Linked DNA regions of Homo sapiens: region 1 is linked to region 2. The links come from fine-mapping of genetic effects on gene expression. A gene starts in region 2. The other region holds a variant in brackets. All regions are shown on one strand. Distances are between the middles of the regions.

Region 1 (9,614 bases), 22 kb before region 2:
GGGAGGACAGCGCGAGGCCTTCTGCGCAAATCCCGTCCTCAGCACCTGAGGCTGTGAATCTCAGACCATTTGCCGAAACACACGTGTGCAAGCGCTCAGTCGCTGCCCCCCAGCCTCATCCTCAGGTTGCTCCTGATACCTCGGCCACAATTGCGTGAGGTCTGGAAGCCAGGGAGCGTTTGTGTTCAGGGCGGGGCGGCATGCAGCCCCCAGCCCTTTCTTCCAACTCCCGAGTGAGGATCACTCAGCCTTGCTTGGACGACAGATGCTCAGAGTTGAGTGGAGCCTTGCCCAGAGCCCAGCGCTCGCGGGCTGTACCCATCCCTGCCAGACCCAGAAAGAGGCCCAGCTGCAGGGAATCAGGGAAGCCCAGGGCTGGGTGGGTGTCGGCCCAGAGCCCAACCACGGGGTGGGGAGGGGGCATCCACAATCCACAGTCTCCGGGGGACGTAACCGCGCCCTGCTGGCTTCAGTACGTTTCAGGAGACGGCAGCGAGGCTACCTTGCATGGTGTGGTGGACGAGCTGGTGCGGTTCCGGCAGAAGGTCCGGCAGTTTGCGCTGGCCATGCCCGAGGCCACGGGGGACGCCCGGCGGCAGCAGCTCCTAGAAAGGCAGCCCCTGCTGGAAGCATGCGACACCCTGCGCCGGGGCCTGACTGCCCACGGCATCAACATCAAGGTGAGTGCCGCACCAAGGTCAGGGACATCACCCCAGGAGCCGGGTAGGTCAACAGGACGTGGGGCCATCAGAGGCCCAGACATCCCCCGTGACCATGCTTTTTTTTTGAGACGGAGTTTCACTCTTGTCACCCAGGCTGGAGTGCAATGGCGTGATCTCGGCTCACCACAACCTCTGCCTCTGCCTCCCAGGTTCAAGCGATTCTCCTGCCTCAGCCTCCTGAGTAGCTAGGATTACAGGCATGCACTCCCATGCTCGGCTGATTTTTTATTTTTAGTAGAGACAGGTTTTCTCCACGTGGGTCAGGCTGGTCTCAAACTCCCGACCTCAGGTGATCCTCCCACCTCAGCCTCCCAAAGTGCCAGGATTACAGGCGTGAGCCACTGCGCCCTGCCCATGCTTCTGAGTAGAGAAACCCACCCCCATAAAAAATGAGGTGGGAGGGCCGTGAGGGAGGGGCCAAGTTGGCTGCAGGGGACGCTGAGCACGGGGACGTGGGTCCTGCTCAGCCCCCGCCACCTCCTGCAGGTGCCTTGAAGCTCCTGGCCTTCTGCTGGAGGTAGTGGGGCCCTTTCTAAGCGCCTGGCAAGCTTTTTAGGACAGGCCGGTGAGGGAACAGGCACCCTGAACCTGATTACGCCTGTCAGCCCCCTGTGCCACATGACGTGGTGTCTGCTCAGAGTTGGACCTCACTCTTCTTCTCCAGGACAGAAGCAGTACAACATCCACGTGGGAACTGCTGGATCAAAGGACAAAAGACCAAAAATCAGCGGGCTGAGGATGGAGCACAGCCATGAACCTGCTCACGACAAGACGCACCCATGCTTCTCAGGGTCAAGGCTTTATGTTAAAGCTTCCTGTCGGGGCTGCTAGGTCAGCATTAAAGTAAGGCAACCAACAGTGTCCCACTGGCGTCTGTTTGTTAGTAACTGAGCCTAAACACTCACTGCGTTCTGTGGCTACAGACTCACCGTCGATTGAGTGAAGTAGTGTCAGACATTCAGTAGCATCCAGCAGCACACGTGCCTGTGCGTGAGACCTGCTGGCCCTGTGCCCAGGGAACAGACAACACAGCCAACAGAAGAGCAGGGACCCCGGGAGGCGGCAGAATGCAGCCTGTTTCCTCCTGAGGGAGGGGCTGGGGATGGGTGAGGTGGGTGGGCCACGCAGCATAGTCTGAAGCAGAGGTGGGACGCCAGCAATGCTAACCCCGGGACACCTCCCCCAGCAAGAACACAATCTTACGTTTTCTCTCTGGTTACAAAAGTAACGTATTCAGCATAGGAAAAATGCAGCTGAGAACCCGTCTGCAGTCCCGCTGCAGTTAACATCCTGGCAGCTGCAGGCCATCTTGGTGGTCATGGTCTGTGCAGAGCAGTGATGGGGTCGAGCTGGGCCTGGGAAAGGTTGGTTCCGGAGGAGTCAGGGCAGCCAGGCTGAAAGCCAGCTGGCGAGCTGTGACAGACAGGATTCCTGAGCGGGAGGTGGCGGCCAGCACACGGCAGGCTGCCTGGGCTACAGGACCGGTGGCCTCCTGAAGCACCCACCTTGCTCCTGATCTCACCCTTCTGTGGTAAGCCCAGCGCCACAGCTGTCAGTGACTCAGCAGGGTGACCCCTCTCCACTCTTCCTGCTCGCAGACCCTGGGCCAGGCCTCTCCCTGTCACACTGGCATCTCTGAATCCCAAGGGCACAGGCAGCAGCGGGACCCGTGACTGGGGATACGGGCTTGCTCATCATTTAACCGTGACCCTGAGGTACAGGTCTCCTGTCTACAGTTCAGAAGTCACTCACCTAGAAAATCACCCTAGTAAAGCTACCCACATAGAAAAAGTCCCCAGAGGGCTCCTTACAATGAGGCATCTCGACAGGGCTGCTCAGTACTGGGGCATTACGGGCCGCCCACCCCCCCACACTTTCCCGTTGCTCTCCTGGTCCAGGGAAGCTCCTGGGAGCGTGTCCGGCTGGAGCGAGTGCGTGAAATACGTGGGTTTGAGAAAGAACATGGAAGCAATGAGCTGCTTGTAAAAAAACCCATTCTCTCCTTTAAGCAAAGGGATGTTTTACTTAGAACAAAAACCAGACGAATAGTTCCTGTGACTGCTGAATTCTATTTCCTAAGGAAAGAAGGGGCTGCCTTGGGCTTATCCTTCAAGGTGCTTTATTGCAGCCACCACGGGAGAGGCGCTGGCGAGGAGGCCAATCTCACACAGACAGGCTTAGATATTCTTATCTCCCTGGCATCTCACACAATGTCCTCACCTAAGAAAGTTGAAAGGTGAGCTTTAGCTGTTTAAGGAAAAAAATACAATACTCAATTTAAATTAACCAGATCTGTCTTTTAATAGTTACCAGAATTTAGATGTTAATTCCCCAGAGGAAAAATGTCCATGGCACAGTTTTTCTGGAAAAGTTCACATGTAGACAGTGAAGCTTCTGAAGTTAGGCGTCAAATTAGTAGTGACAATCTTTTTTTTAATCTTGAAAGTCCCTAGTTTTAAAGAAAGTAGAATCCATCTGGGGCATGTCTGCATCACAGGGTATCACTCAAGAGTCATCATCAGGCCAAAAAGACTCTGAAGGGAACCAGGAGGGTTTGGCCCTTGCTGTGGAAAGATGCTACTGAAAGTATAAGAGAACACCCTAATGCACGCGTCAGGCACGAAACCGTACCATGCCCCGCTAAGACATGGGACCAGAGAACACGTCAACGTCAGGCCGCTCCAGGAAAACCATCCACAAAGACAACAGAAGCTAACCCGAGGTCGACACTGCCATGAAGAGTGTTGGCTGAAACCGCAGTTACCAGTGTCTTTACTGGACGCGAACATCCCTAAGGACACGGCTGTGCTGCTTCCTAAGCATACGTGACCACGATACTGTCTTTCCCCGGGTCTCCTTAGCGCCATCACTGCACCAGGCCCAGCATGCCTCAAGTCCTCCAGAGCCTTCTCCTGAGACAGCACTAGGGGCCACGTCAGACCCCAGGCTGCAGCCCTTCACCGTGCCCGTCCCCGGTCCGGTCTGCCCTGCTGGGGCCGGTGGGTATCATGGGGACCCCTGTGTAGACACGGACACCGGAGAGCGTGGGACAGGAGGCGTCTCAGAGCTCCCCACCCACACACTCAAGGGTCAGCGTCACTCATGTTTCCTTCTGTTCCCATGGTGCCTCCAAAAGGGTTTCCAAACAAAGTCATCATTGATTACCCTGGAGTATGTCAATAAGCCAAACACCAGCAGCCAGATACCACCAAGCTAGTCACCACTTTAAAAGAAGATGAGCTGGAGAACGAAGCAGCCCTCTGATGGACCCAGTCAGTGCAGTCGGGACTCAGGGAGACACCCGGGGACCCCTGCCCAGCTCCCTGCCGGAGGAAAGACTAGGGAAGGGAAGCAGAGGAGGAACGAAGGGCGCCGGCAGAGAGAGTAACAAGTAGAAACTTCGCCGATCTGGGAGCAGGCCGAGAAACTCTGTTGAGCTGCTAAAGAATTCTTCATTCTCATGTGATTTTCTTCATTTCTGTCTTCCCAGTTACTACCAAGGAGCTAAGGAAAGTTCAGGAATACTTTGTTTAGTGTCGCCATAACATCTCCAACCATGCATTAAGTTTAACCAA[A/G]AGCTGCAATATTCCAGATTCTTAAATTCTCAATGGCAACCAATTTATGCTCAAGTTGAAAATCTGGCAAGCACCGTACGCCTTCAGCACACGCGTGGGTCCGGATTTTCCCATCACACACACGCTCTCCCCCGTCCAAGGTGCCTGTTTACTTCTGGTCTGCGCGGGCTCAGGTTTCAAAGAGCTTGCTGAAGGCGGCCCCCACCTCGGCGATCATGTCGGAGGTGGTGGTGGAGCGACCGTGCTTCTGGAAGGCTTGGTGGTTGCACTGCCTGGTGAGAGAGCAGGCGCCAAACGCGGCCACCAGGAGAGGGCTGGACCTGCGGAGAGGGGGACAGCAGGAGGTGTGGGGAAGTGGGCGTCGTGGTCCGGGGGCCGCAGCTACCCTGGGCTCTGGTTTTGACTCCTGTTTCAATCTCAGGACCCCAAATTGTCAATTTCAAGTCTGATATGCCCCTGAGGAGAAAGCAGGTTTATCACAGCGAAAACCACCATTAACCCTCCACTACTCCCTGGCAGGAGGCACACAGGAAACGTCTATGTACTCGGAGACAGGTCCAGGGCTAGGGCACACAGTGGGCCAGGTGTTCCCGGGGAAAGCCAGGCGGCACAAGCTGCTTAGCCCTGTTTGACTGTGCTCTCAGTGCCCAGGTGCAGAGGGCATCTGAGGTCTGAGAATGGGGATTCCTGCTACCAGGGCTCCATCTCCTGGGGGAGGGGTGGAGGCAACTCGAGTGAACACAGCAGAATGAACAGTAAGACTCCTGCCCACACCCCTACCTCCTCGGCTCTCAAATTCATGTGGACACACCTAGTTTGGGGGATGGTCCCAGACTCTGCCATCCCGGCAATGAGGACACATGAGGCCACTGGATGACAGCCCTGCCCACCCTCCAGAAGCCCGGGTCTGCCACACCTAGCACCTGCAGCCACCACCTTGATGGGCTCACAGAAGAGAAATGGAGATGCTTAGAGGTATGGGAACTGCTTGCATTCATAAAGTTCTCTGACTACAGAACTGGGCCAAGGGCCCTGGTCCTAGAATTCTGCTGTCTCTTAAAGAAAATTCACATCTTTAAGAACAAGTGTCTAAGTAAGCCTTGACCCTGTCTGTTTTCTATCTTAGTATTCTGTGTTACACAGAATAAACCACTCAACTTCCCAGAACAGCGTGCTGCTGGGCCTTGGTTGCACCTCGGAACTCTCTGGAGAGCTCTGAAGACCACCCCTGCCCCAGGCCCCATCCACAGTGAATGATGGACAGGCCCAGGCCCAAGTGTGGGGTGGAAGCTTCTGCCAAGAGGGTTCGTCTGTGCCGAGATCTCTCCAGTGAAGCCTAGAGTTCATTGTCAGTGTTTCCAGGGCTACTTATTCAACGCATGAGCTACTGAAACAGCTTAGAAAAATCAGACGGTTTCAAAGTAGAATAAATGAAGACGTGGCCTTACCCATTTGTTTTCTGTGGTCCAGCAAGGAGCGCCCAGTGTACCAGGACGCCCAGGGAGCCCGACAGGAGGTCCCCTTGCCCTCCACACCTGCGGCTGCTGCCTTCCTGGCTGCACACAAGCACTGCACAGGGCAGAAGTGAGAGCAGGTGTCAGCATGGCCATGTGTGTGAATGTGACAGTAGCCACGGGTGTGGAAGGCCGCACGGCAGGCAGAGCCACACCCTCCAGGAGCAGCCTGAGGCTCCACTCACATCCTGCCTGCTACGGCTCTTCCCTGTTTGTTCCAAGGGTTGGAGGCAGCCTCTGTTTTACAGAAGAGGAAACCAAGACACGCAGTGGTGAGGCTGCCCCAGACCCCGCTGTGTAGCACAGCAGGTTGGTGGAGACACCTGCAGCTCGGAACCGCCTCAGACGAGCCCAAGCAGGCAGCTCTGAGCAGGGCGGCGCCAGCCTCCAGCTCCTCCCACCAGCTCCCAGGGACGGAGCCCTCACCTGCAGCCCACACTCCAGAGTTCACCTTAAACCACAGCTCAACCATACAGGGCAACACCGAGCGAGGCCTCCACCGGCCTCATAACGTCACGTATGCCTGTGTATGGGAATTCTCTATTTCTTTGAAAAATGTTTTGAAAACCAGGTGTTACATTCTCTGAACCTGTTAGACCCAAGAGAGCCTTCCAGTGATTAAAAAACCCTCATCTCAAAGGTGTCAGAGTCCCTCTGAGAACATCTGCTCTGTGTTCCTTGTGCACAGCTGTGTGTGGATGAGTGTGCGAGGGCGTGTGCGAGGCTGTGAGCATGACCATGCATGTGTATAAGTGCGAGTGTGCAAGGGCGTGCGAGGCTGTGAGCACAACTGTGCATGTGTATGAATTGCATGCGTGTGCACATATGTGCATGTGAATGTGAGTGTACAAGTGTGGATGTGCACACACCCGCCCACAGACGCCTCAGTGTTCTACCCTGATTTTGGTACCTAGTCCAGCCCCACAGCTCAGCAGGTGAGCACATTCGCTGCCCATCATCTGTCCAGGCCTGAATGGAGGGGCTTCCATTTTCAGCGCTAACAAGGGCACGGCTCCCCAGATGCCTCGCTGGCGCTGGGCCCGGCCTCTGCCCTGCTCTCACTTGGCTCTTGCTGAAGCCTCCCCAGGCTCCGTGGGAGTGGCCAGTTGAGACTCGCCACACTCAGTGCCTGAGATTCCACTACCAGCATCAGCTTCGGGGCTTTCTGCACTTTCCAGTCATTTTGATAAAAGAGAATGAAATGCAATAAAATACCCAAATAACTGCATGGATGGTGGATGCCACAGGTGAGATGAAGGTGGCAGCTGGAGACGCGGGACCCTGCACTGTGCCCTGCTGTTGCAGGCACCCTCCCGCCAGACTGCTTCTCATAACTGAGGCAAGGGAATTCAACCAACGGGTAAGGCCCACGGCTCGAAAGCCTGCCCTCACCACTGTCACCTCCCCTGGCAAAACAGTGAAAAGTCAAAACATGGACTCTGAAGAAAGTGTGGTTGACGAGCTCATCAGGAATCCCTGTGTGAATGTGTGTGAACACGGGTGTGCACGGGAGAGGTCTTCCAGGGCTCATGCTCGGTGTGGCCATGCTGACTGACCTGGCACTGGCCCATGCACAGAGGGCAGCCGCCACTCACCCTGCTGGCCGTTGGAGAGGATGTCGCGCTCTCCTTTCTGGACCACCGTCACGTTGCCCAGGGCTTGGCTGAGTCTTAGCACAGATCCATGGCTGTCATCGCTGTCCATAGGGCCTCTGAGCTATGACAACACAGGAAGACAGAGAAAAAGCAAAGTCTTCCTCAGACACACGACGACAGATAGCCCTGTCCCATCCGCCATGAGACTCATGCTCTCGTGTCTAAAGGGATCACCCAGGCACCTGTTAAAGGCCATGTAGGTGGGAGGATGCCCAGGATATCACCTGCAGTGAGTCCTCCGAGCAGGTGCTGACACGGTGCCTGCTCCAGTGCCCATCCTCTACCTCATCAGAGCAGGCTGAAGGAGGACCACCCAAGACTGGGTTCTGAGAGCTTTGCAGGAGTAATACAAATTCCAGTCGTACTGGGCACTAACATTGATGGGACACTTACCATGTGGGGACTCACGGCTTTACATAGGTTTCCTCATCTCATCCTCACAACCCCGTGAAGCTGATGCCATCATCACATTACAGATGAGGCACTCAGGACACAGACAAAGTGACCTGTCCAGAGTGCACTGCAGGAGGGGCTGACTGACCCGAGTCCCTGCCTGTCCCAAGCCCACTACACCATCGTTCATCCAATCCAAGCGCATTAATGGGAAGACGCGCCATCCGCTGGGAGAGGCACAGCGATTACTTGCAGGTGTGTCCACAGGGACAGGCTGGGCAGAAGCATGGAGCTCGTCCTTCACCCTCTTCAGGACGAACAGGGCTTGCATCTACCCTCCAGGGGGTCCACTGACTCACCACAGCGTCATACAGTCTGCTGAACTCCACGTGGTTGGGAGTGAGCACAGCCTTCCGGTAGCCATGGATGAGGGCCGGCTGCTGAGCGACCAGCCACAGGCCATCCTGCACAGAACAAGGAGCCGTGCTCACTGCACAGGCCTTCCGGGAGTCCGAGCCAGGAGGAGAGAAGTCAACTCACCGCGTCGATGACAACAGGGATGTCCCTGGCCTTTGACACTTCCAAAATGCCCTGCCAGAAGAGAAAACCAGACTGAGCACCATGCCTGCTGCTATGGTGTGGGTATGTGTCTTCTCAAAACTCATGGTGAAACTTAATTGCCAAGGGAAGGGTCCTGGGAGGTGGGGCCTTTAAAAGGTGATGTGGCAGTGTCCTCATGGGTTGGTTTAATGACCTTTAAAAGAGGCATAAGGGTCTCTCTCCTGCCCTTCTGCCCTCGCCAGATGCCGGCACCTTGATGTTGGACATCCACCTTCAGAACTGTGAGCCAGTAAACGCCTGTTCATTATCAATTACCCAGTCTGTGGTACGGCTACAGCAGCGCAAAACCGACTAAGACACTTTTCCCAAGAGTGACAGAAAATTGAGCAGACTCTTAATAAAATGCAACATCAGGCCATCAAACAATAAATGGAAAATAATCAAGTAAATGAATAAAATAGAGAAGCAGAAAGACCCAATGAACTCGCAGAGCCCGTAAACAAGGCAGGACACTGGGAACTCTGAAAGGCGAAGCCCACTGGAAACGCTATGAACAACAGCTGGGCTCCTAGGCTAACCCATGAAGACAGCCCCCGCCCCAGCAAGGGCATCCAGTTCTCCAACAGATACTAATACGCAGCATTCGGAGGCAGGAAATCTGAATTCCTGAGAATTCCCCAAATCATTAGTCATTATGTATTTTTCATATCACTTTACTTACACGTTTTAAAATAACAACAATAATAAACAGGGAATCATTTTTCCCTGATAGGATTACAGTGAAGGTTTCAAAGGTTTTCTATTAAAAAAAAAAAACTACATGTATAGATACACACACATATATGTAATATTTGGTGGTTTTTATTATTATGAGCCAATACATTGTGACAAGATTATACACTGCAGTAGCATGTAAAGTGATCCTGACTTGACAGACACCTGATAATACAAAACATTAAAATAGAAAACATTAAACAAAATGAGAGGTGACAGCATGCTGGCAGTCCTCAGAGCCCTCGCTTGCTCTCAGCACCTCCTCTGCCTGGGCTCCCACTTTGGCGGCATTTGAGGAGCCCTTCAGCCCACCACTGCACTGTGGGAGCCCCTTTCTGGGCTGGCCAAGGCTGGAGCCCACTCCCTCAGCTTGCAGGGAGGTGTGGAGGGAGAGGCGCGAGCGGGAACTGGGGCTGCCTG
Region 2 (9,614 bases):
CTCAACAAAACTTTTGAAGGAATTTTCTTTATGAGTAGATGTAACTGCCTTAGCTGATAGAGCAGATGCTGGGATTCCCCAAGATAAAAAGATCCTATGAATCCCCATCAACCCAAATTCTTTTTTTTTTTTTTTTTTGAGACAGAGTCTCACTCTGTCGCCAGGCTGGAGTGCAGTGGTACAATCTCGGCTCACTGCAACCTACGACCCCCTGGTCCAAGCAATTCTCCTGCGTCAGCCTCCTGAGTAGCTGGGACTACAGGCGCATGCCACCACGCCCAGCTAATTTTTGTATTTTTAGCAGAGACGGGGTTTCACCATGTTGGCCAGGGTGGTCTCGATCTCCTGACCTTGTGATCTGCCCACCTCGGCCTCCCAAAGTGCTAGGATTACAGGTGTGAGCCACCGCGCTCAGCCCAACCCCAAATCTTTTCACCTTCTTCCAGACCAACACACAAGACCCGGCACAGAATCACTATAAACTGTGGGCCAAGGAGAGACACAATGAAGCTTGCTGAGCTACCTGCAGGGGACCAATGCACCCATCCTTGAAATCCCTCCAGGAGGGCTAAATTATGGTTTTAAAACAATACACTTGTCTAGAAGAGACATTTATGGGGCCAGGCGCAGTGGCTCCCCGCTGTAATCTCAGCACTTTGGGAGGCCAAGGTGGGTGGATCACTTGAGGTCAGGAGTTCGAGACCAGCCTGGCCAACATAGTGAAACCCCATCTCTACTAAAAATACAAAAATTAGTTGGGCACGGTGGTGCATGCCTGTAATTCCAGCTACTCGGGAGGCTGAGGCAGAAGAACTGTTTGAACCCAGAAGGTGGAGGCTGCAGTGAGCCAAGATTATGCCACTGCACTCCAGCCTGGGTGACACAGCGAGACTCTTGTCTCAAAAAAAAAGACATTTATGGGTATCGATCAGCATCCTGTCTTTGTCGTGGGGAGCTGTTCTATGCACTGAAGGATGCTGAGCAGCATCCCCGGCTTCTACCCAGTCAGCAGTGCATGTACACGCACCCAGTGGTGACAACCAGCAATATCTCAACACTCCCAAATGTCTTCTGGATGGGGCAAAATGAGCCTGGGTTAAGAACCACTAGTAGAGATGCATGCGTGTAGTTTTAGCACCTTTAAATATACCAGTACTTCAAATTAAATATTTAAGGTCATATAAAATATAAATTGTGACTTATGAAATCACAGAGAAAAACAATTTAGTCAGACTTCAACTTACGGATGTTAAAAATCAACATTTATATCAATGTACCCTGCCTGATGAAAACAACTCCTAAATGGTAATACTTCATAAATGTGTATTTCTCACAATAAGAAAAGGAATAAAATGGTTCCACCAGATAATACTGTATATTTTCCAGGAGGCTTCTTTCTCCCAATATCCAAGATTCATATCTTACAAACATCTGTATCTTAAATTTCAGATTTAAGTCTTAAAAAAAGTACTATAGGTGAGGTATGAAATATTTAATGTTTATATCAAAAAGGGCAAATACCATAAACCCACACTGAACTACCCATTTGCACTTTGCCTCATAGTTGAAATAACCTATACATTACCGGAAAGGATCTGACACAAAATTAAGCTGCAGCCACGAGTCCAGGTGGAGCACCTGTCAGGTGGAGGGGAGCACCAATGCCCCTCTGCAACCAGTGTCGCCCAGCACTCCCAGGAGGGCACAGCAGGGCCGCCTCGGGGTCACAACTGCAGCACCAGAGCTCCCAGGGATGCTGTGTTCCAAGTGCTTGTCCTCTCCGCATCTGCTCCCCAGAGCGGAAAAGCTTCCCTTCTGCGTCACACTCTGCTGAAAGTCCTCCCAGTACTTTTGGTACTGGGATAGCACCTTTCTGATCTTTTTGGTTGAGAAAGAGGAGATATGCTAGTCCAGGCAAGGATACGCTTAAAACCTACAGGCTTTAAAGCTAATACTGATTTTTGTTGTTATTCAAATAATGACAAGAACACATACAATTTTTCCTGCACTTCAAGGTAAGCTTTGTTAAAATGATAAGATATCAGGGGGCTCAAACATCGAATACAATATACGAATAAGGGCCACTTTCTAAGGCGGATTTTTCTACAGCAGGTTAAGCATTAAAGTCCCATTTACCACAAGCCAAAAATATCAATTCTGAGTGTGTAAAACCCACTGCATTCACACGGCAATCTTTATCATAGCTAGGAAGAAAACACGGGGGGAATCCTGTTCTGAGCTATTCCTTTATCTTATACAGAAGGTAGTGTTTTGAAGCCCAAAATGTGCAAACCACCTTCACAGCAACTTGATCAACCCACCAGCGGGAGTCGCCTCCTCCTGCTCCTGTTCCGTTGTGAAATCTTAAGACTTTGTGAGATTCCCAGTTCCCTGGCCATGATGCTACCGTAAGGGCTGGGTCTAAGAACCCTGGAGAACAAGAAGCGCCATCCAGAAACTGAATATTTCAAGATTTACACATGAGAACAACGGCTCTCAAATGGAAGCTAGCTTAAAATTATGTTAAACTCATAATATAATTAATAGTAACTTTTTTGCTACATAATTTTAAAAATTCAAAGTGATACCAAAAGTAACTATTATTACATGTGGGGTTCTGAAACCTTTCGAGCACACAGACAACCTACATGGTAGGGGCTGACCTGGACATAAGAAGGAAGTTCTTATGTCTGGACTGGCAGAGAATCAGCACCCTACTACTGCCTGCCCACGAGGAATGTGGCACCATCCGCAAGCTGCAGCACTGACTGCTTCCATGTGGGACTCAATCACCTCGAACACAGCCTGGCACAGAACAAGACACTTGATACATGTTCGATGAAGTCAAGACATCGTGATTCACTCTCCTCACTAGCACTTTATCTTTCTTTTACAGATAAGGAAACTGGGGCCCAGAGAGAAACCTGTGCAGATGCTGTGGTTAGTAATGGACAAGCCAGGCCACAAGACACTATTTTACCAAAGTGCTGCCATGTTTTTGTTTTTATTTTTGTGGGCACACAGTAGGTGTAAAATGCTGCCATTTTAAGGCAAAATAAGAAGTATAGCATTTTCACTTGAATAGAATTGTATTAACACAAAGTAAAATCCAGGCTGCTCACCAGCATTCACCTAAGATAAACAGCTTCTGTTAGCAAAAGGGCCAAAGCAGGTCAACTAAACTTCCCAGCACTTGGCAGTGAAGCAAGTTCCAGCTGGCTTACTGACGTCACCATTTGAACTTAACATTTCAAATGTTAACACAGAAACATTTACATATAAAGATCAAAGTTCTGAAGGATAAAAAGGCCTTGACAATAGGCGACTTAAGATGTATCCCATTCGGTAACTCTTCAGACAATTCTGAGTCTGGAAGAACAGGTTAAATTTGTTTGGCTTTTGTTTTAAGGAAGCGTGTCTGGGGAAGACTATCACTGCTGCTTTGTGCTAAAAGTGCTTTTAGTACTGGAAAATTCTACTTAAAAAAACAAAAATACTTTAAGTTAATGTGAGTTATAACTAATTTAGAGCATTTAACCACAATCCCTAAGTTAACTGAAATATTTCCTAAAGCCTCAGTAATATACAACTCTACCTGGCTTTTCGTAAAAGTTTAGGCAGTCTGATAATAAATCCTCAACCAAGCGCAATGAAAAATCTTGCTACTAATCACGGTGTGTGAATTTAAGGTAAAGAGCTACAAATAAATCTCTAAATAAAGTGTTAAGAAGCCTCCCTGCTGGTGTGAGTGAGGTGCAGTGTAGAGTACCCTCTCAGCGCCACCCAGTGCATTCTCAGTGTGTGCTGATGAAAACAAAAAGCCAAACTCTCTGACGATGCCCAACATACACACAAGGTAAAATCTATCTAATGACTACAGCAACAAATGGTGCGTTTAACCATTTCGGCCACTCACTGGCTGGAGAATCCTGGCTAAGTCACTTTCTCTGAGCTTCTATTTATCTTCTATACCAAGGTGGATAACAGCAATCTCTCCTTATGAGAAATGAGATATACACGAACTACTTCCTGTATAAAATATGTTAGATACACCAATACCAACAAGGCAAACAGAAAGACAAAAAAACCCTATGAAGAGATGGGGCTCCAAGCACTTGCTCAGCTCCTGTTTAAATTCTTTCTACCTTATCCGTTCTATTTGAAAAGGCATCTCAGCGTGCAAGGACCAGCCAAGGCCAGGGCAGGGCCCTCGGGGACATCTGGCCAGCACTTCAGGTTCTGGGGATGACTCAGGTGAGCCTCCCTCCCCAAGGGACCTCCTACACGCACACACACACCCCGAACCGGGGGCGGGCGAAGGAGGCCTGGCTGGTGGAGTCCTTTTCTGCGGCCCAGGCGTCGCAATATCCAGTCCCTCTCGTCCAAGGACGTGCAGGGTCTGTACTTGCCCAGTCGCACTGGGACTTCAAATTGGGGATGCAGACACGGCCCTGCTCCTGGTGTGCGCGAAGCCCGCTCAGCCGGCCAGCTCGCCTGCACGCCCGCCGCGTCCCTGGGCCCCAGGAGGGCCCCCGTATCCAGCTCCGACCAAACAGCAAGCCCGCAGTTGGCGAGCATCTTTCCCAGACCGGGAGCGGGGACAGAGCAGAGCAGACGGATCCGACCAGCGCACCACGGCGCCCCAGGGCCCTCCTACCGTCCTCGGCCCTCGGCCCCCCGTTCCCCGGCCACCGCGCGGGCTCCGCCGCTCCTGGGACGCGCACTGGCTCCGGCCCGGCGCCACCCTCTGCCCCTCTGTCACCCCGCACGGAGGCTCCCATCACCCAAGCCGCGCCCAGCCGTCGCCGCGCCGTTCCAGGAGGCCTCCGTCCTCTCCCTACTCCGCCCCGCAGGCCACACGGCGCCCCGGCCCCGCGCGCGGGCTGCCCCTCGGCGGCGCTTCCCCCCCGCGAGCCAGCAGAGGCGGTCAGCGGTCGGGTACCTGCGTCCAGTGGCGGCCCGTACAGCGCGAGTGCGGCCGAGAGCAATGCGACAACGACCGCGCCGGCGACGGCAGTTCCGGCCCCCGCGCGTGTGACCATCCCCGGGCCAAATGGAATCGACCTTACCTCGTCTGCAAGCCCGGATTGCCCCACAGCGAGGACCCAGGGCCATCGGGCAGCATTCCGGATTCCCAGCTGCCCCCGCGCCGTCGCCGGAAACACAGCCATTGGAAGCGTTTTCCGGTTTCCCGACCGCCTCCGCGCGGCTGTCGGCAGTGGGATCCCAACTCGCTCAATCACACCCGGTTCTAGATGATTGACAAGCGCGACGCCCAACCCGGCCTGGTCCCAGCTCTGGCCTAAGAGGTTCGGCTGGAAGGCAGGTTGAAGAGTTAACAACGATCTGGTTCAGGGTCTGGTTTGTGTTTATCGGCCCATTTTTAGGCTTGCGGCGTTATAGAAAATGATTTTGCTGGCAGGTGGAGTGCCGAGGCCCACTATGTGCCCCCAGTATAGCAGTCAGGTGCCTTTCTGCTCCAGGCGCAACCTCTGCCCTGAACCCCAAACCAGCTCGCTGCGAGGCCCCTTCGCTTTCCACCGTCTCAGGTCAGGGCAGCTCCATCACTCCAACGCTGAGGCCCAAACCCCTGGAAGGCATTCTGACCTCTCCTGCCCTCCCACCCACGCTCCTCCTGTGGCTGATGGCCTCTTACCTCCACTGCCGCCCTATTTGAAGCCACCGTCATGGTGCTAAAAGAAACTTGTGGGGCCAGGTGCGGTGGCTCGCGCGTGTGATCCCAATGCTTTGGGAGGCCAAGATGGAAGGATCGTTTGAGCCCAGGAGTTTGAGACCAGCCTGGACAACATAAGGAGACCCCCTTCTCTACCAAAATTTTTTTGGAAAATTAGCAGGGGATGGTGTGGCACACCTGTAGTCCAGCTACTTGAGAGGCTGAGGTGAAAGGATGGCTCAACATGTCAGAGGCCTTTTAACCAGAGCGATTCCATCTTGAATAGGGACTGGGTAAAATGAGGGTGAGACCTACTGGGCTGCATTCCCAGGGGGTTAGACATTCTTGGCCACAGGATGAGGTGGTGGGCACAAGATACAGGTCACAAAGACCGCACTGATAAGATGACACAGTAAAGAAACTGGCCCAAAGCCTACCAAAACCAAGATGGCCACAAAAGTGACCTCTGTGTCCTCATTGCTCATTATTTGCTGATTATAACGTATTAGCATGCTAAAGGACACTCCTACCAGCGCCATGAGAGTTTACAAATGCTATGGCAACATCAGGAAATTACTCTATATGGTCTAAAAAGGGGAGGAACCCTCAGTTCCAGCAATTGCCAACCTCTTTCCCAGAAAACTCATGAATAATCCCCTCCTTATTTAGCCTATAATCAAGAGATAACTATAACTATGTGTGGAGTTAGTTCCTGCCGGTGGGTTCATGGTCTCACTGACTTCAAGAATGAAGCTGCGGACCTTCACAGTGTTACAGCTCTTAAAGGTGGCATAGACCCAAAGAGTGAGCAGCAGCAAGATTTATTATGAAGAGGCCGGGCGTGGTGGCTCATGCCTGTAAGCCCAGCACTTTGGGAGGCCGAGGCGGGTGGATCACAAGGTCAGGAGATCGAGACCATCTTGGCTAACACGGTGAAACCCTGTCTCTACTAAAAATACAAAAAATTAGCCGGACATGGTGGCGGGCGCCTGTAATCCCAGCTACCCAGGAGGCTGAGGCAGGAGAATGGCGTGAACCTGGGAGGCAGAGCTTCCAGTGAGCCGAGATCGGGCCACTGCACTCCAGCCTGGGCCACAGAGCGAGACTCCACCTCAAAAAAAAAAAAAAAAAGATTCATTATGAAGAGCAAAAGAACAAAGCTTCCACAGCATGGAAGGGGACCCAAGTGGATTGCTGCTGCTGGCTGGCGGGGGTGGGGGGGTGGGGCAGCTTTTATTCCCTTATTTCTCCCCTCCCATGTTCTGTTTCTGCCCTATCGGAATGCCCTTTTTTCAATCTTTCCTGCAATTGGCTACTTTTAGGATCCTGCTGATTGGTGCGTTTTACAGAGCACTGATTGGTGCATTTTACAATCCTCTTGCTAGCTACAGAGCGCTCATTGGTGCATTTTACAATCCTAGCTACAGAGTGCTGATTGGTGCATTTTACAATCCTCTTGTAAGACAGAAAAGTTCTCCAAGTCCCCACTCGACCCAGGAAGTCCAGCTGGCTTCAAGTCTCATAAGTATATTCAGTCAAGCAGCCAGTGCCACTGCTCTGCCTATGGAGTAGCCATTCTTTTATTCCCTTTCTTAATAAGTTTGCTTTCAATTTATGGACTCGCCCAGAATTCTTTCTTGCACAAGGTCCAAGAACCCTCTTGAGGTCTGGATTGGAACCCCTTTCTGATAACAGAGTGAAACCCTGAACTACACCTACCAGACCAAACCAGTAAGGAGTTTAACTACAGTAACTGAGCTTTACTTCATGGCAGGAAACTCTGTAACCAGTTAAGCAATGAAGTTATAATCAAATTAGCTGTCTCCATCACACACTTCTGTTTCCTATAGGTGCTGTCAGATCAGGTTCCTGATTGGAGTTCTCTTATCTGCTCTGGTTTGGAGGGCTGCCCCATTCGGGAATCTGTTTTGTTTTGCTCAAATACACTCAGTTAAAACATACACGTGTCTAAGGTTTTTCCATTTAACAGTGTGTGGCCTGGATGATGGCAATAGTCTGCTGCATGAGTGTCAATGAAAAGAGTCAAACTCTAAAATATTCGAGATTTATTCTGATCCAAAGATGAGTGACCATGGCTTGTAACATAGCCCCTGCAGATCCTGAGAACATGTGCCCAGGGTAGTCGGGCTAAGCTTGGTTTTATACATGGTAGGGATACGGAAGACATCAATCAGTACATGTAAGAAGTACGTTGGTTCAGCCCAGAAAGGTGGGACAACTCCAAGAGAGGAGCTTCCAGTCATAGGTGGATTCAAAGATTTTCTGATTGGCAATTGGTAGAAAGTTTACTTAAAGACTTGGAATCAGTAGAAGGAAGTGTCTGGGTTAAGATAAGGGGTTGTGCAGATGAGGCCTCCAGGTAGCAGGCTTCAAAGAGAATGAATTGTAGATGTTTCTTTTTGTTGTTGTTGTTGTTTGAGACAGAGTCTCACTCTGTTGCCCAGGCTGGAGTCCAATGGCACAATCTTGGCCCACTGCAACCTCTGCCCCCCAGGTTCAAGCGATCCACCCTACTCAGCCTCCCAAGTAGCTGGAACTACAGGCGTGCACCACCACACCCGGCCAATTTTTGTATTTTTAGTAAAGACAGGGTTTCACTGTGTTGGCCAGGCTGGTCTCCAACTCCTGACCTCAAGTGATCCTCTGCCTTAGACTCCCAAAGTGCTGGCATTACAGGTGTGGCCCACCTCACCTGGACTTTGTAAATGTTTCTTATCAAACTTCAGGTGCCGGACTCTTAGTAAATTATCTCCTGGATCAAGAAAAAGACCTGGAAAAGGAAGGGGAGTCTCCTCAGAATGTAGATGTTTTTCCCCAAAGAGACAGTTTTGCAAGGCTATTTCAAAATATGCCAAATGAATATATTTGGGGTAAAATACTCCAGTTTCTTTCAGGGCTTGCAATCTGTCACATTGGTATCTTATTGCTACAAAAATTCTGCTTTGTCAGTCTTAAGGTCTCTGTTTTAACGTTAATGCTGGTCAACTGTGCCTGAATTCCAAAGGGAGGAGGGTATAATGAGGCATCCATCCCCCCTTTCCATCTCGGCCTGAACGAGTGTTTCAGGTTTACTGTAAAATGCCCTTGGCACCCTCCCCAGCCTCTGCCTCTGTCATCACATGATGGTCTCCTTGTCCTCACGTGGGATTTTCCTCTCCTTTAAGGACACCAGTCATATTGGAGTAGGGCCCACCCTAATGATCTCATCTCATCTTAATTCAATAATCTATAAAGACCTCACTTCCAGTTACGGTTATAGTCACAGGTACTAGGGGTTAGGATTTAACATATTCTGAGGAGACACAACTCAACCCATAATACCTTCTGTTAATAAATTAACCTCCCTGCTTTCCTACAGCAATAGAATGATCTTTCCTATAAGTCAGATCATGTCACTCCTCTGCATAGAACCATCCAACTGTTTTCCATGACACTCAGATTAAAATTAAGGTGCATTCCATCACTCTCCGACCCCTATGTGATTGGCGCCCCCAATCACCTACAGCTGTCGGAGGTCTCCGGAGGGTCTCTGGATGCCACTGAGACCCCAGCCCCAGCCAGTTTCCAAGTTCTTGACACCAGCATGAGAAAGAATTCAGGGACACGTCAGAATGAAACGAAAGGCAAGAAGCTTTTACTGCAAAGCGAAAGCACACACGTAAAAGAGAATTGCGGGCGTGCTCAGCAGAGTGAGTCACATCAGAGTTTGAGTTTCTAATTTTATGGATTTTTTTTTAATTAGGGGGTGGAATAATCATAAGGTATTCTGGAAAAGGAGTGATTTCAGGGACTCCCTCCCCCCATTACCACAGACTTTTACCCTTATTCAAGTTTTCCCAGGATCATGGACATATCACCCTGACCAGGATTTGACCATTTTCTCTTCCTTATTTTGGGTTTTCTGTTAACCTGCGGTTTC

Alleles and levels. Alleles are on the strand shown, and positions count from the first base shown. SD is a standard deviation of normalised expression in the study named.
With allele A in place of G in region 1, the expression in skeletal muscle of the gene that starts at base 5,172 in region 2 is higher (moderate effect, 0.55 SD a copy in GTEx).

The links.
Region 1: its variant is fine-mapped to the expression of NAXD in skeletal muscle (GTEx, PIP above 0.99). The same link has a PIP of 0.9 or more in spinal cord.

The regions. Positions count from the first base shown.
Region 1 is chr13:110,633,381-110,642,994 of GRCh38, reverse strand. It overlaps NAXD (NAD(P)HX dehydratase), which reads right to left. Exons shown (of 10, transcript NM_001242882.2): 6 at 8,400-8,450; 7 at 8,219-8,323; 8 at 7,407-7,527; 9 at 5,746-5,866; 10 at 2,999-4,617. The coding sequence ends at 4,467. CARS2 (cysteinyl-tRNA synthetase 2, mitochondrial) reads left to right here. Exons shown (of 15, transcript NM_024537.4): 14 at 474-680; 15 at 1,387-1,578. The coding sequence ends at 1,458. Among named protein-coding and RNA genes, the nearest start is that of NAXD-AS1, 22 kb to the right of the region's middle. RefSeq lists enhancers at 5,455-6,283, 7,114-7,942, 7,943-8,772. The variant A/G (reference allele first, on the strand shown) is at 4,298.
Region 2 is chr13:110,611,103-110,620,716 of GRCh38, reverse strand. NAXD (NAD(P)HX dehydratase) reads right to left here and starts at 5,172. Exons shown (of 10, transcript NM_001242882.2): 1 at 5,070-5,172. The coding sequence starts at 5,115. It overlaps NAXD-AS1 (NAXD antisense RNA 1), which reads left to right and starts at 4,364. Exons shown (of 1, transcript NR_182301.1): 1 at 4,364-7,635. RefSeq lists enhancers at 4,143-4,192, 4,213-4,262, 5,164-6,091, 9,403-9,614 and silencers at 4,543-4,702, 4,713-4,962.